2 separate regions of the Homo sapiens genome follow, and region 2 is linked to region 1. A link means that fine-mapping ties the variant in region 1 to the expression of a gene that starts in the linked region. Tissue or cell type: whole blood. Region 1 holds a variant in brackets; the other region holds the start of a gene. All regions are shown on one strand. Distances are between the middles of the regions.

Evidence for each region. PIP is the estimated chance that this variant, and not a neighbour inherited with it, causes the effect.
Region 2: FAM13A starts here. The variant in region 1 is fine-mapped to the expression of FAM13A in whole blood (TOPMed, PIP above 0.99).

The regions. Positions count from the first base shown.
Region 1 is chr4:88,878,767-88,886,874 of GRCh38, reverse strand. All of the region lies in intron 6 of FAM13A (family with sequence similarity 13 member A), which reads left to right. Among named protein-coding and RNA genes, the nearest start is that of FAM13A-AS1, 170 kb to the right of the region's middle. The variant G/T (reference allele first, on the strand shown) is at 4,331.
Region 2 is chr4:89,053,268-89,061,375 of GRCh38, reverse strand. It overlaps FAM13A (family with sequence similarity 13 member A), which reads left to right and starts at 4,191. Exons shown (of 24, transcript NM_014883.4): 1 at 4,191-4,438. The coding sequence starts at 4,412. RefSeq lists an enhancer at 4,328-4,890.

The DNA of each region.
Region 1 (8,108 bases):
AGTGCAATGGCATGATCTCAGCTCACTGCAACCTCCACCTCCCGGGTTCAAGTGATTCTCGTGCTTCAGCCTCCCGAATAGCTGGGATTACAGGCATGCGTCACCATGCCCAGCTAATTTTTGTATTATTAGTAGAGACGGGGTTTCACCATGTTGGCCAGGCTGTTCTCAAACTCTTGACCTCAAGTGATCCACCCACTTCAGCCTCCCAAAGTGCTGGGATTATAGGCGTGAGCCACTGCACCAGGCCTATATACCATAATTTCTTTCTTTTTTTTTTCTTTTTAAGATGGAGTCTCACTCTTGTCATCCAGGCTGGAGTGCAGTGGTGCGATCTTGGCTCACTGCAACCTCTGCCTCCTGGGTTCAAGCAATTCTCCTGCCTCAGCCTCCTGAGTAACTGGGACTACAGGTGCATGCCACCACGCCTGGCTAATTTTGTAATTCTAGTAGAGATGGGGTTTCACCATGTTGGCCAGGCTGGTTTCAAACTCCTGACCTCAGGTGATCTGCCTGCCTCGGCCTCCCAAAGTGCTGGGATTACAGGTGTGAGCCACCACACCCAGCCACCAAAATTTCTTTATCCACTCGTTGATTGATAGGCATTTGGGCTGGCTCCATATTTTTGCAATTGCAAATTGTGCTGCTATAAACATGCGTGTGGAAGTATTACTTTTGTTTAATGATTTATCTTCCTCTGGGTAGATACCCAGTAGTGGGATTGCTGGATCAAATGGTAGATCTACTTTTAGTGCTTTAAGGAATCTCCACACTGTTTTCCATAGTAGTTGTACTAGTGTTCATTCCCACCAGCAGTGTAAAAGTGTTCCATTTTCACCACATCCATGCCAACGTCTATTTTTTTTTTTTATTTTTTGCTTATGGCCATTCTTGCAGGAGTAAGGTGGTATCACGTTGTGGTTTTGATTTGCATTTCCCTGGTCATTAGTGATGTTGAGCATTTTTTCATATGTTTATTGGCCATTTGTATATCTTCTTTTGAGAATTGTCTATTCATGCCTTTAGCCCACTTTTTGATGGGATTGTGTGATTTTTTTTTTTTTTTGCTAATTTGTTTGGATCCTTGTATATTCTGGATATTAGTCCTTTGTCAGATGTATAGATTACAAAGATTTTCTCCCACTCTGTGGGTTGTCTGCTTACTCTGCTGATTGTTTCTTTTGCTGTGCAGAAGCTTTTTAGTATAATTAGGTCCCATCTATTTATCTTTGTTATTGTTGCATATGCTTTTGGGTTCTTGGACATGAAGTCTTTGCCTAAGCCAATGTCTAGAAGGGGTTTTCCAGTGTCACCTTCTAGAATTTTTGTGGGCTCAGGTCTTAGATTTAAGTTTTTGATCCATCTTGAATTGATTTTTGTAAAAGGTGAGAGATGAGGATCTGGTTTCATTCTTCTACATGTGGCTTGCCAATTATCCCAGCACTATTTGTTGAGTAGGGTGTCCTTTCTCCACTTTATCTTTTAGTTTGCTTCATTGAAGATCCATTGGCTGTATTTGGCATTATTTCTGGGTTCTCTATCCTGTTTCATTGGTCTATGTGCCTATTTTTATACCACTACTATGCTGTTTTGGTGACTATGGCCTTATAGTATAGTTTGAGGTTGGGTAATGTGATGCCTCTAGATTTGTTCTTTTTGCTTAGTTTTGGATTGGCCATTCAGGCTCTTTTTTGGTTCCTTTGGTTCCATATGAATTTTCAGATTTTTTTTTCTGGTTCTGTTAAGAACAATTGGTGGTATTTTGATGGGAATTACATTGAATTTGTAGATTGCTTTTGGCAGTATGGTCATTTTCACAATATTGATTCTACCTATCCAAGAGAAGAGGATGTGTTTCCATTTGTTTGTGCCATCTATGATTTCTTTCAGCAGTGTTTTGTAGTTTTCCTTGTAGAGGTCTTTCACCTCCTTGTTTAGATATATTCCTAAGTATTTGATTTTATTTTTTTACAGCTATTCTAAAAGGGGTTGAGTTCTTGCTTTTATTCTCAGTTTGGTTGCTGTTGGTGTATAGCACAGCTACTGATTTGTGTGCATTAATTTTGTTTCCTGAAACTTTGCTGAATTCATTTATCAGTTCTAGGAGCTTTTTGGAGGACTCTTTAGGGTTCTTAGATATACAATCAGATCATCAGCAAACAGCGACAGTTTGATTCCTCTTCAGCAGTTTGGTTCCGCTTTCTTTCTTTCTCTTGTCTAATTGCTCTGGCTAGGACTTCCAGTACTATGTTGAATAGAAGTGAAGAGAGTGGGATCCTTGTCTTGTTTCAGTTCTTAGGGAGAATGCTTTCAACTTTTCCTCATTCAGTATAATGTTGGCTGTGGGTTTGTCCTAGATGGTTTTATTACGTTAAGGTATGCCTCTTCTATGCCAGTTTTGCTGAGGGTTTTAATAATAAAGCGATGATGGATTTTGTCAAATACTTTTTGTGCCTCTATTGAGCTGATCATGTGATTTCTGGTTTTAATTCTGTTTATGTGGTGTATCACATTTATTGACATGCATATGTTAAGCCATCTCTGCATCCCTGGTGTGAAACCCACTTGATCATAGTGGGTTATCTTTTTGATATGCTGTTGGATTTGGTTAGCTTAAGGATTTTTGCATCTGTGTTCATCAGGGATATTGGTCTGTTGTTTTCTTTTTTTTGTTATGTCCTTTCCTGGTTTTGGTATTAGGGTGATACTGGCTTCATAAAATGATATTGGGAGGATTCCTTCCTTCTCTATCTTGTGGAATAGTGTCAATAGGATTGGTACCAATTCTTCTTTGAATGTCTGACAGAATTCAGCTGTAAATCCATCTTTTCCTGGACTTTTTTTTTGGCAATTTTTAATTAGCATTTCAATCTTGCTGCTTGTTATTCATCTGTGCAGAGTTTCTAGTTCTTCCTAGTATAATCTAGGAGGGTTGTCTGTTTCCAGAAATTTATCCATCTCCTCTTGGTTTTCTAGTTTATGTGTGTAAACGTGTTTATCGTAGCCTTCAATGATCTTTTGTATTTCTGTGGTAATTTCAATTGTAATACCTCTCGTTTCATTTATAATTGAACTTATTTGGATCTTCTCTCTTTTTGTGGTTAGTCTCACTAATGGTCTATCAATTTTATTTATGTTTTGAAAGAACCAGGTTTTTGTTTCATTTATCTTTTGTATTTTTGTTTGTTTCTATTTCATTTAGTTCTGCTCTGATCTTCATTATTTCTTTTCTTCTGCTGGGTTTGAGTTTAGTTTGTTCTTGTTTCTCCAGTTCCTTGAGGTGTGACCTTAGATTGTCTCTTTGTTCTCTTTCAGACTTTTTGATGTAGGCATTTAAGGCTATGAACTTTCCCCTTAGCACCACCTTTGCTGTATTACAGAGGTTTTGATAGGTTGTGTCACTATTATCATTGAGTTCAATGAATTTTTTAATTTCCATCTTGATTTCATTGTTGGCCCAATGATCATTCAGGAGCAGATTGTTAAATTTCCATGTATTTGCATGGTTTTGAAGGTTCTTTTGGAGTTGATTTCCAATTTTATTCCACTGTGGCTTGAGAGCATACTTGATATATTTCAATCTTCTTAAATTTACTGATACTTGTTTTGTGGCTTATCGTGTGGTCTATCTTGGAGAATGTTCCATGTGTTGATGAATAGAATGTATATTCTCTAGTTGTTTAGTAGAATGTTCTGTAAATATCTTTTAAGTCTATTTGTTTTAAGGTATAGTTTAAATCCAGTGTTTCTTTGTTAACTTTCTGTCTTGATGACCTGTCTAGTCCTGTCAGTGGAATATTGAAGTCTCTGACTATTATTGTATTGCTGTCTATCTTATTTCTTAGGTGTAGTAGTAATTATTTTATAAATTTGGGAGCTCCAGTGGTAGATACATTTATATTTAGGATTGTGATATTTTCCTGTTGAACAAGTCCTTTAATCATTATATAATGTCCCTCTGTCTTTTTTAACTGCTATTGCTTTAAAGTTTGTTTTGTCTGATATAAGAATAGCTACTCCTGCTTGTTTTGTTGTCCATTTGCATTAAATATCTTTTTCCAACCCTTTACATTAAGTTTATGTGAGTCTTTATGTGTTAGGTGAGTCTCTTGAAGATAGCAGATAGTTGGTTGGTGAATTCTTATCCATTCTGCCATTGTGTGTATTTTAAGTTGAGCATTTATGCCATTTACATTCAACATTAGTATTGAGATGTGAGGTACTGTTCTATTCATCATGCTGTTTGTTGCCTGAAGACCTTGTTTTTTTTTTTTCCATTGTGTTTTTGTTTTGTAGGTGGTATGAGATTTATGCTTTAAGGAGGTTCTAT[G/T]TTGGTATATTTTCAAAATTTAGAGCTCCTTTTAGCCTTTCTTGTAGTGCTGGCTTGGTAGTGGTGAATTATCTCAGCATTGTCTGAAAAAGATTGTATTGTCTGAAAAAGACAATACAGCATTGTCTGAAAAAGTCCGTAACTTTCCTTCCTTTATGAAGCTTAGTTTCACTGGATACAAAATTCTTGGCTGATAATTACTTTGTTTAAGCAGTCTAAAGATAAGCCCCAATCCCTTCTAGCTTGTAGGGATTCTGCTGAGAAATCTGCAGTTAATCTGATAGGTTTTCCTTTAGAGGTTAACTAATGCTTTTGCCTCACAGCTCTTAATTTTCTTTCCTTCATCCTGACTTTAGATTACCTTATGATTATGTGCCTAGGTGATGATCTTTTCATGATAAATTTCCCAGATGTTCTTTGAGATTCTTGTATTTGGATATCTAGATCTCTAGCAAGGCCAGGGAAGTTTTCCTCGGTTATTCCCTCAAATATGTTTTCCCAAGTTTTAGATTCATCATCTTCCTCGGGAACAACAATTATGGTTAGGTTTGGTCATTTAACATAATCCCAAAATTATTGAAGTCTTTTTTCATTTTTTTTAAATTCTTTTTTCTTTGTCTCTGTTGGATTGAGTTAATTTGAAAGCCTTTACTTTGACCTCTGAAATTCCTTCTTCTACCTGTTTGATTCTATCGCTGACACGTTCCAGTATATTTTACATTTCTCTAAGTGTGTCCTTCATTTCCAGAAGTTGTGATTGTTTTTTATTTATGCTATCTATTTCACTGAAGATTTTTCCCTTCATATGTTATATCATTTTTTTTGTTTCATTAAGTTAGACTTCACCTTTCTGTAGTGCCTCCTTGATTAGCTTATTAATCAACCTTCTGAATTCTTTTTCTGGCAATTCAGAGATTTCTTCTTGTTTTGGATCAATTCCTGGTGAGCTAGCATGATCTCTTGGGGGTGTTAAAGAACCTCGTGTTGTTATATTACCAGAATTGTTTTTCTGTTTCCTTCTCATTTGGGTAGACTATGTCAGAGGGAAGATCTGGAGCTCAAGGTCAGCTGTTTATATGCTTTTTTCCCATGGGGTGTTCCCTTGATGTGGTGCTCTCCCCCTTCCCCTAAGGATGTGGCTTTCTGAGAGCTGAACTGCTGTGATTGTTACTCCTTTTCTGGATCTAGCCACCCAGTGGAGCTACCAAGCTCCAGGCTAGTACTGGGAGTGTCTGCACAGAGTCCTGTGATGTGAACTGTTTTTAGGTCTCTCAGACATGGATACGAGCCCCCACTTAAGTGAAAGTAGCAGGAGAGTGAAGTGAGCTCTGTGAGAGTCCTTAGTTGTAGTTTTGTTTATTGGGCTAGTTTTATTTGGTTGGCTTCCAGCCAGGAGGTGGCAGTTTCAAGAGAGCATTAGCTGTGGCAGTATAGGGAGGATTAGGCGGTGGGCAGCGCCATAGAGCTCCCAAGAAATTATGTCCATTGTCTTCAGCTACCAGGGCTGGTGGAGAAAGACCATCAGGTGGGGGCAGGGTTAGGCTCAGACTCTTCTTGGGCGGGACTTGCTGTGGCTGCTGTCGGGGATAGGGGCATGGTTCTCAGGCCAATGGAGTTATGTTCCTAGGGGAATTATGGCTGCCTCTGCTGCCTCATTCAGGTCCCCAAGGGAGTGGGGAAAAGCCAGCAGTTACAGGCCTCACTCACCTCCCACGCAGCCCAAAAGGCCAGTCTCACTCCCACTGTGCCCCCCCCCCCCCCGCCCCCCACCGCACCACCCGCAACAGCTCTGAGTTTATTTCCAGGCAGCTGCTAAACAGGGCTGAGAATTTGCCCCAGGCTGCCAGCCTCCCGGCTGAGAAAGCAAGCAGGGCTTTCATGGTTTGCACCTCCCCACCTGCCATGGCTTCTGTGCTGTGTCTGCACTCCTGATTCCAATGCCCCCTTCCTCAGATTCTGTCCAGGAAACTCTGCGTTCGGTGGAAATTGTTGTGAAGTTCAGCTAGAAGGTTCCTTCTCCCTGTGGTTTTTTTTCCCAGTTCCTTTGGCAGTCCTGCCCAAGGACCCCTATGAGACAAAGTCAGAAATGGCTTCCCTGTGGACCAAGAGTGCCCACAGAGCTCTTCCTGCTGCTTCCTCTACTCTGATATTTCGCTTGGCTCTCTAAATTTGTCTCAGCTCCAGGTAAGGTCAAACCTTCTCCTGTCATCTGGACCTTCAGGTTTCCCAGTGAGGGTGTGTGTTCGGGGCTGGACGGTTCGCCTTTCACACTTTCACACTTTGGGCTCTCAGAATTTTTCAGCTGTCTCCTGGAGCCTACAGCAGCAATCCACTTCCTTCAAAGGGTCTGTGGCTTCTCTTGGCTTTCCTGCTATGTCCCTGTGGTAGTTCTAGGAGCAAAAGTTCACAGTGTGAGTCTCCACATGCTGCTCTCTCCTTCTAAGTCGGAGCTTCCCTTGGATTTTATATTTTCAGTATTCTAATTTATTAGAGAGGAATAATAATATATAATAATAATATAGGTAGGTGTGACTTAAGTATTTACTCTATGCTAAACACTGAAAAATACTTCTCATATTACTTCATTAAATGCTCACAACACTATAGAATAAAAATTCAGCCTGAATAGTCTTGGTTATACTTCAGTAATAAACAATCCCATTATCTTAATGGCTTAAGACAACATTTTTTTTTCTTGCTCATGCTGCCTGCCCAATTTAGATTAACAGGGAGACTCTGCTCTTGCTGGTCACTCAGGCACCTGGCCTGACAGAGCAGCCCCTCGCAAATGTAACCAGTTATTGTACCCAAGGAAAAGGAAAGAGTTCTGTAGGACCTTGCAGTAACAATGAAATGCTCTGGTGGTCCAGAAGTAACTCCATTCCTTCTGCTCAGAACCCATTGGCCAGAGCTAATCACATGCCGCACCTCCATCCCCAGGCCCACAATCAGACAGTGAGTACAACCCTAGGATGTGCCTAGAAGGAAGGATGGCTTTACCAGTATTTGGTGAACAGCAGTAACATTCTACCATATTTTCCTTCTTCTTTTTTTTTTAATAGGTAAGAAAGCAGGCTTAGAGAGACTAGTTAACTTAACCAAGATTGTGCATATAATACATATCAGATATATTTGATGCTAAAGCATGAACTCTTTACCCTTATATTACTTCCCACTTTTCTAGTCTTATATGCTATAGCATGTTATACTACCTGCTTTGCAGAGTTTTTGTGAGAATCAAAGATACTAATAATAGATGTAAATAATTGGGTGTACTGCCTGGAACTTAGTAAGCATCTAGGGATTAGTGAAAGGGTCTTTTTTGTTCTTACCTCTTAACCTGTGTCTCACAGCGTTTCTTAAGTGCTAAAGCTCTATATTGCTTTTATAGTGGCTGTATTAATTGTTCTCCATCATGACAGCAGCTATTCTCAGCTACCAATATTAGATGTGTTTTATATATAAAGGTGTCTGATTGCACACAACTTATTCCCAACATTCATTCTAAAGACCGTTTTATATATCAACCATGCTGTTTAGAATATAGTTTCCTATCAGGCCAGCCTACCAAACTCACAAAGTAATTAGCTAAATAGACTTTAGTAGGATATCCTAGGAATCTAACACCTTACCTACAATGTGGATATTGCTGTGGAAAATTACATGTTGAGTTTCATACTATCAGGCTCCATAAGTTTGTACTTTGTGCTCATTGTGATAACAGATGTTTATTCAGTCCCCTACACTATTAGGTGCAGATGTCCAGTCTACTGGGGAC
Region 2 (8,108 bases), 170 kb before region 1:
CAATAGTAGTGGAAGACTTTAACATCTCACTATCAGTATTAGACAGATCAAAGAGACAGAAAACTAACAAGGATATTCAGGATTTGAACTCAGCTCTGGATCAAGTGGACCTAGTAGATGTCTACAGAACTCTCTACCCCAAATAAACAGACTATAAATTGTTCTCAGTGCCACATGGCAATTATTCTAAAATTTACCATGTAATTGGAAGTAAAACACTCCTCAGCAAATGTAAAAGAACTGAAATCATAAACAGTCTCTCAGTGCAATCAAATTAGAACTCAGGATTAATAAACTCACTCAAAACCACACAATTTCATGGAAATTGAACAGCCTGCTCCTGAATGACTTCTGGGTAAATAATGAAATTAAGGCAGAAATTCAAAGAAGTTCTTTGAAACCAATGAGAACAAAGAACGTACCAAAATATCTGGGACACAGCTAAAGCAGTGTTAAGAGGGAAATTTATAGCACTAAATGCCCACATCAGAAAGCTACAAAGATCTCAAATTGACACCCTAACATCACAAAAGAGTTAGAGGCAAGAGGAAACTAATCCAAAAGCTAGCATAAGACAAGAAATAACTAAGATCAGAGAAGAATTGAAGGAGATAGAGACACAAAAAACCCTCCAAAAAAATAAATCCAGAAGATTGGTTTTTTTTGAAAAAATTAACAAAATAGATAGACTGCTGGCTAGACTAATAAAGAAGAAAACAGAGAAGGAAGAATCAAATAGACCCAATAAAAAAATGATAAAAGGGATATCACCACTGATCCTACAGAAATACAAACTACCATCAGAGAATACTACAAACACCTCTATGCAAACAAACTAGAAAATTTAGAAGAAATGATTAAACTCCTGGATGCATACACCTTACCAAGACTGAACCAGGAAGAAGTTGAATCCCTGCATAGACCAATAACAAGCCTGAAACTGATGTAGTAATTAATAGCTTACCAACCAAAAAAGCCCAGGACCAGATGGATTCACAGCTGAATTCTACCAGAAATACAAAGAGGAGCTGGTACCATTCCTTCTGAAACTATTCTAAACAATTTAGAAGGAGGGACTCCTCCTTAACTCATTTTATGAAGCCAGCATCATCCTGGTACCCAAACTGGGAAGAAACACAACAACCACAAAAAAACTTCAGGCCAATACCATAGATGAACATTGATGTGAAAAATCCTCAGTAAAATACTGGCAAACTGAAACCAGCAGCACATCAAAAAACTTATCCACCATGATCAAGTCGGCTTCATCTCTGGGATGCAAGGCTGGTTCAACATACACAAATCAATAAATATAATCCATCACATAAACAGAACCAAAGACAAAAACCACATGATTATCTCAACAGATGCAGAAAAGGCCTTTGATAAAATTCAACATCCCTTCATGTTAAAAACTCTCAATAAACTAGTTATTGATGGAACAGATCTCAAAATAATAAAAGCTATTTATGAGAGATCCACAGCCAATATCATATTGAATGGGCAAAAGCTGGAAGCATTCCCTTTGAAAACTGGTACAAGACAAGGATGCCCTCTCTCACCACTTGTATTCAACATAGTATTGGAAGTTCTGGCCAAGGCAATCAAACAAGAGAAAGAAATAAAGGGTATTCAAATAGGAAGAGAAGAAATCAAGTTATCTCTGTTTGCAGACGACTTGATTTTATATTTAGGAAGCCCCATCATCTCAGCCCCAAAACTTCTTGAACTGATAAGGAACTTCAGCAAGGTCTCAGGATACAAAATCAATGTATAAAAATCACAAGCATTCATTTACACCAACAATAGGCAAGCAGAGAGGCAAATCATGAATGAACTCCCATTCACAATCGCTACAAAGAGAATAAAATACATAGGTATACAGCTATCAAGGGATGTGAAGGACCTCTTCAAGGAGAACTACAAACCACTGCTCAAGGATATAAGAGAGAACACAAACAAATGGAAAAACATTCTATCCTCGTGGATAGGAAGAATCATGATCATGAAAATGGCCCTACTGCCCAAAGTAATCTATAGATTCAATGCTATTCCCATCAAACTACCATTGACATTCTTCACAGAATTAGAAAAACTATTTTAAATTTCATCCAGAATCAAAGAAGACCCCATATAGACAAGACAATCCTAAGCAAAAAGAACAAAGCAGGAGGCATCATGCTACCTGACTTCAAACTATACTACAAGGCTACAGTAACCAAAACAGCACAGTACTGGTACCAAAACAGACATACAGACCAATGGAGCAGAACGGAGACCTCAGAAATAACACCACATGTCTACAACAATCTAATCTTCGTCAAATCTGACAAAAAACAAGCAATGGGAAAATGATCTCCCATTCAGTAAATGGTCCTGGGAAAACTGGCTAGTTATATGCAAAAAACTGAAACTGGACCCCTTCCTTAGACCTTATACAAAAATTATCTCAAGATGGATTAAAGACTTAAATGTAAAACCCAAAACTATAAAAACCCTAGAAGAAAACCTAGGCAATACCATTCAGGGCATAGGCATGGGCAGAGACAAAAATGCCAAAAGCAATGGCAACAGAAGCCAAAATTGACAAATGGGATCTAATTAAACTAAAGAGCTTTTGCACAGCAAAAGAAACTATCATCAGAGTGAACAAGCAGCCTACAGAATGGGAGAAAATATTTGCAAACTATGCATCTGACAAAGGTCTCATATCCAGAATCCATAAGGAACTTAAACAAATTTACAGGAAAAAGACAAACTACCCCATCAAAAAGTGGGCAAAGGATATGAACAGACACTTCTCAAAAGAAGACATTTATGTAGCCAACAAACCTATGAAGAAAAGCTCACCATCACTGATCATCAGAGAAATGCAAATCAAAACCACAATGAGATACTATCTCGAGCCAGTTAGAATGGCAATTATTGAGAAGTCAGGAAACAACAGATGCTAGAGAGGATGTGGAGAAATAGGAACGCTTTTACACTGTCCGTGGGAATGTAATTAGTTCAACCATTGTGGAAGACAGTATGGAGATTCCTCAAGGATCTAGAACCAGAAATACCATTTGACCCAGCAGTCCCATTACTGGGTATATACCCAAAGGAGTATAAATCATTCTGCTATAAAGACACATACACACATATGTTTATCGCAGCACTGTTTACAATAGCAAAGACATGGAACCCACTCAAATGCCCATCAATGATAGACTGGATAAAGAAAATGTGGTACATATACACCATGGAATACTATGCAGCCATAATAAGGAACAAGATCATGTCTTTTGCATGGACATGTATGAAGCTAGAAGCCGTCATCCTCAGCAAACTACCACAGGAACAGAAAACCAGACACCACATGTTCTCACTCATAAGTGGGAGTTGAACATTGAGAACACATGGACACAAAGGGGAAACAACACACATCAGGGCCTGTTGGGAGGTTGGGGGTGAGGGGAGAGAACTTAGAGGATGGGTCAATAGGTACAGCAAAAGAAAAAAGAAAAACAAATTGACAGAAAAAATGGTAACAAAAATAAAAATAGGATAGTTTCCTTTTGGCTTACCTGAAGTGGCTATTTTAGCTATTAGTTCAAATATTTGTAAATTTTAAAATCTATCAAATTTTCTAGTGACAGCATGTGGAAGAGAAAGTTATTGAAAAGTCAGTTAGCTAATTTTTCAGACTGCAAATCACATATGTAGAATTATGGTTGTCTAGAAGTATGTTGTTTATGTTTATCATCAGTATATTTTTATAAGACAACTCATACATAATTAGAAGTAGTAACGGCTACATAAAATAGAGCATTTTCATTTAAAACAATTCTGATGGGGTAGCATGGAAGGAAGAAAATTTTGGTAGAATTTAGCTGGTTTCTAAGGAAGAGTAGAAGAGAAAACTGCCTCAGAAAAAATGAATAATGTGCCTGCAGTTTTAAACCTGAGTCTGAATACGTACATTTTGCTTAGAGCTGTGTGGAATCTGGGAAGCAAGTCTGTGTTTTCACTTTATGCACTGTTGGTTCTATTAATGAAAGCCACCAGGTGACTGGCAGTTTTCGGAGTCAAAGAAGCCTGTGTGTAGGATCTAGGGAGTCAGGTTTGAAAAAAAGATGTCAGCGACTTAAGACCCGTGTCACGTGACTCCCTCTACTTGCCAGCACTGAGGCTGTGGATCAAATTTCAACTCCAGGCAGTCCTTCCAGCCATGTGGGTTCAGCGGAAAGAGAAGCAAAACCACTCTTCCTAAAATGTTAGAAGCTGCTCTTCGCTTACCTTGGGGCCTTTGCATTGGGAGCTGTTTTTCACATCAAAGAATATGTGCTGAATGGAATTTTAGTATTTTGCTGTCGTTTTAATATTTTCGTCTGGTCTTCCTCAGTTCTTCCAGACGCTTTCTGAGAGAATGGGGGCAGGAGCTCTAGCCATCTGTGTAAGTATAGGCCTTCTTCTGTCTTCTGTGTTTACTGCCAGTTTTTAGGAGAGGGCCTTGCCTTCCTTGTTTTGATGAGATGTTTGTGTAACTTATTTTTCCTTCCCAGGAGGTGGGGAAAGATTTGTTACTTAAATTCCTATCTACTTAAATGGGTATTAGGCAGGATTTGGGATGGCATTCAGCATATTTGTGCACTTTAGTTTCCAAAAAAGGTGAAAGATGCATGCTGATTTATTCCGTTAAGTCAACTTGATTTAAAGTAGAGCACTTTCAAGCATTTTAGACTTTCTTGTCCCTGAATAGTTAAACATGAATGCTTCATTATAGCTATTAGAGAAATCTTGTGGCTAGCTTGAGGAGGAATTGAAGTAACCATTAATTTATTACTTTTGAGTATGTGTGTGACATTTTTCTGTTTTATATTTCTATTTTCGTTTAGTAATTCTGGAGTTTCTGTTTCAGCATGATTGCTGAAAGTGATGGTGGAGAAGCTCAGTTGATAAATGTTTGTGTATCCTTAAACTGTAGAAATGAATGGTTGTTATAACACAGTAGCATTAATAAATAACACTGAAATAAAATCCTTGGGAAAATGTGCATATTTCTGGAGTTTTAGAATTTTTAGAATTTATGAATTTCTAAATTATTCTGCTGGTGCTTGTACAAAACCTTTTGTAATAATCAAAAATTGTCAATTATATAATTTGCAGAATGCTGTAATTTAAATTTTGATTGTACTATATAGAAAATGCATATATCTGTATGAGAATTACACATATTTATGTTTCAAGTTGCTATTGTATTCCATAGGGACATTTTATTTTCTAGAATGTATTAAATGAGAAATATCTTCTTCCTTATTATCACCTTAACTGCTCACTTAAAAAATCACACTCAGGCCAGATCCTCTTTTTTTGTGTGTGTTTCAGAAAGAGCTGCAATTTGCTGTAGCTTCTGATGGCATTCTGAAGTGTTTAGAAATATCTGAGCAATTTTTGACACACAGACACCAAATGGTCACCAAATGGTCACCAAATGGTAGACCAGCCCTATAGATTAAGTTTTCTTAGTGAAACTGCAGGATGACCTTGTTTCCAGGCTCAAAACTTTTCAGCACCATGTATGTCACTCTGTCTTCCTTTTAACTCTGAGGCTTAGTAGCATCCAGGTATCCATGTGGTTATTCTTTTTTTATCACCCCAAAGAGTTTCCTTCAAAATCTGATTTATCTATGTGTAAAATACTGACTTTTACTTTACTGCAGAGGTGGCCCTTCTATTTTTCTAGCTTTATAAAAGAAACAATACAGAACTGAAAATGTGTAGAATGAGGCAGCAGATAGGTCATGAAGATTGGTAGTCATCTCTGATTGTCTGATTAGATCTTTACTTCTTTCCCTTGACCTGCAATATATTGATCTCTACCTTGACTGGAATGCACACTGACTCATGTATAAAACTTTATATTTTCCCTTAATTTATATCCAAAGCATGTATAAAATTTCAGTTAAAGTTGACATAAAAATCACACAGTGTAAGAGATTATTCACTCTGGTAGATGAGTAATTCTCAATCATTTCTACCCTTCTCCTTAAGGTTGGCCTTTGATTGTGCTGTCTTGGTTTTACTGTAGGAGGAAATACATTTTCAACAGTTGTACCATAGCATATCTGGAAAAAGATAGCTTTTGGAGAACAACAAAAAAAATTTTAAACATCGTGACAAAAAAGGGAGAACTAAGTCACACATTAATACATTCAATGAGCTGATACACTACTTTTTACTTTGTGTAGGAGTGAAGAGAAAGCTTTTCCTCTGCCCTTTCTGCAATTTTATTGAAACAATTGGCAATAGATTAATAGGAGAAAAAGAGTTACAAATTTATTAATATGTATATGGATATGAGAGCCCCTCAAATATGAGATTCAAAGAAGGGCCAGGTGGTTGAAGCTTAAATGCCTTCTTTTTGGGGAAGAGAGAAGTAGGGAGCTGCAGGTAATTTTAGAGAGGTAGTAAATAATTTTTAAAGTGAATGAATGGGTTCAAAGAGCATGGCCTGGGACAGCGTTTCCCTGAGCTATGGTGAGGTGGTGGAAAGGTGAGGGGTGGAATGAAGGTTGTGTTTTTATGCAGATAAAGTCTCCCAGCCAATCTCTTGGAGCTGTCCTCAGAAGAATAGATGAAAAGTCAGTGTGGATATGGTGACAGCTTTTAGTCTCTTTTCTGATGGTTAATTTTTCATGGTTATTTGATGAGATTCTCAGGAAGTAGATCTTAAGACAATTGCATTTCTTTTGGAAAGAAGCTTCCTTAATCAGATAAGGAAATTCCAGAGAGAGTCACTCTCAGTGCTTTAGGAAAGAAAAAGAGAGACTGAGGGAGGGCAGGAGAGTGGAAAGGCAGAGAGAGACCTTGGTTCTGAGGCTTATTTCTGAGACATTTTAATTAAAAATACCCAGCATGCCAAAGCACCATATTTTGGGGTATAGCTTTTTGAACCCCAACATTTAGGACTTACATACTTATACATATATGTAGCAACTACTGAAATATCCTGCTGCTGAAGACATTAATACTTCAGACAGTATAATGAGTACTAGATATCTGTAGTACGTACGTGTGTGTGTGTGTGTGTGTCTGTGTGTATCTTTGTGTGTCTGTATGTGTGTGTGGACTCTTGAAGTGGGACACAAATTGGTTCCAATAAACTCAGTTTCTATGTCCATTGACTAACCTACTTTATCTTCCTCATTTCTTTTCTTTTTTAAACTCTTTGCCATGTTGTTAGTGTTAAGAAATTTTGCTGCTCATGATACTGTTGTAGGCTCAAAAATGTATTGCCAATCATGTGTACAAAGAAAATTTAGCTGCTTTACTGTAACAAATCTATTTTATTTTCAGTAAACCACCTATTCTGAGGTGGTGTAGGGAATTACAGTTGCCAGTTCATGTTATTTTAGTCTCTTCTAATTTTAAATGTCACTTTTGGATGATTCTGTTTCTCTCAGGTGAATCCTGAGTCAGATTTTCTGCTTCTCCTGCTGTTCTATCCAATGTGGCATCAGGATATATTAAAGATTGGTGGGCTGAAAGTGGGAGTTTGCATATTCTAGTGGATGAAGAAGGAGGAGTTGAAATGCATGTGTAGATTCTTATACTCTGGATATTATGATTTCTGGTGAATTTAGGTCTCAAATCTATGACTGGTCAATTTGTGAATTGGTTCTCTTGGTAATATCAGTGCCTAACAGTCCACCCCACCTGATTTGTCCCCAGTTCATGCTGGTGCTGATAATTTCAAGAATGCCCCAGGCCTCGTAGCCTTTCTCTCTAACTTGGGGACCTCTGCTTCTGTAGTCTTACCGCCTGGTACCATCAACTACCTTCCATGTATCCCATAGCGCAAGCAGGAACGTACAGTCGCGTTACAGAAAGGTCATATACCAAATTAAAATATGCCATTCATGGGATTTATTGAATCAACTTAAATCACAGCAAGAAGAAAGAGGAAAAGGATGAGGTTAGGTTTATCTTCTTTGACAGGGCTTAAGTGGGAAGAAAGGACCACACTCCCTGAATTCTGTGTTATTTAACGTTCAAATGTCCTGTTGCTCTTGCCTTCTGTGCCACATCAGCCTTTCCTGATCATGGTAATTATCAGTTCATGG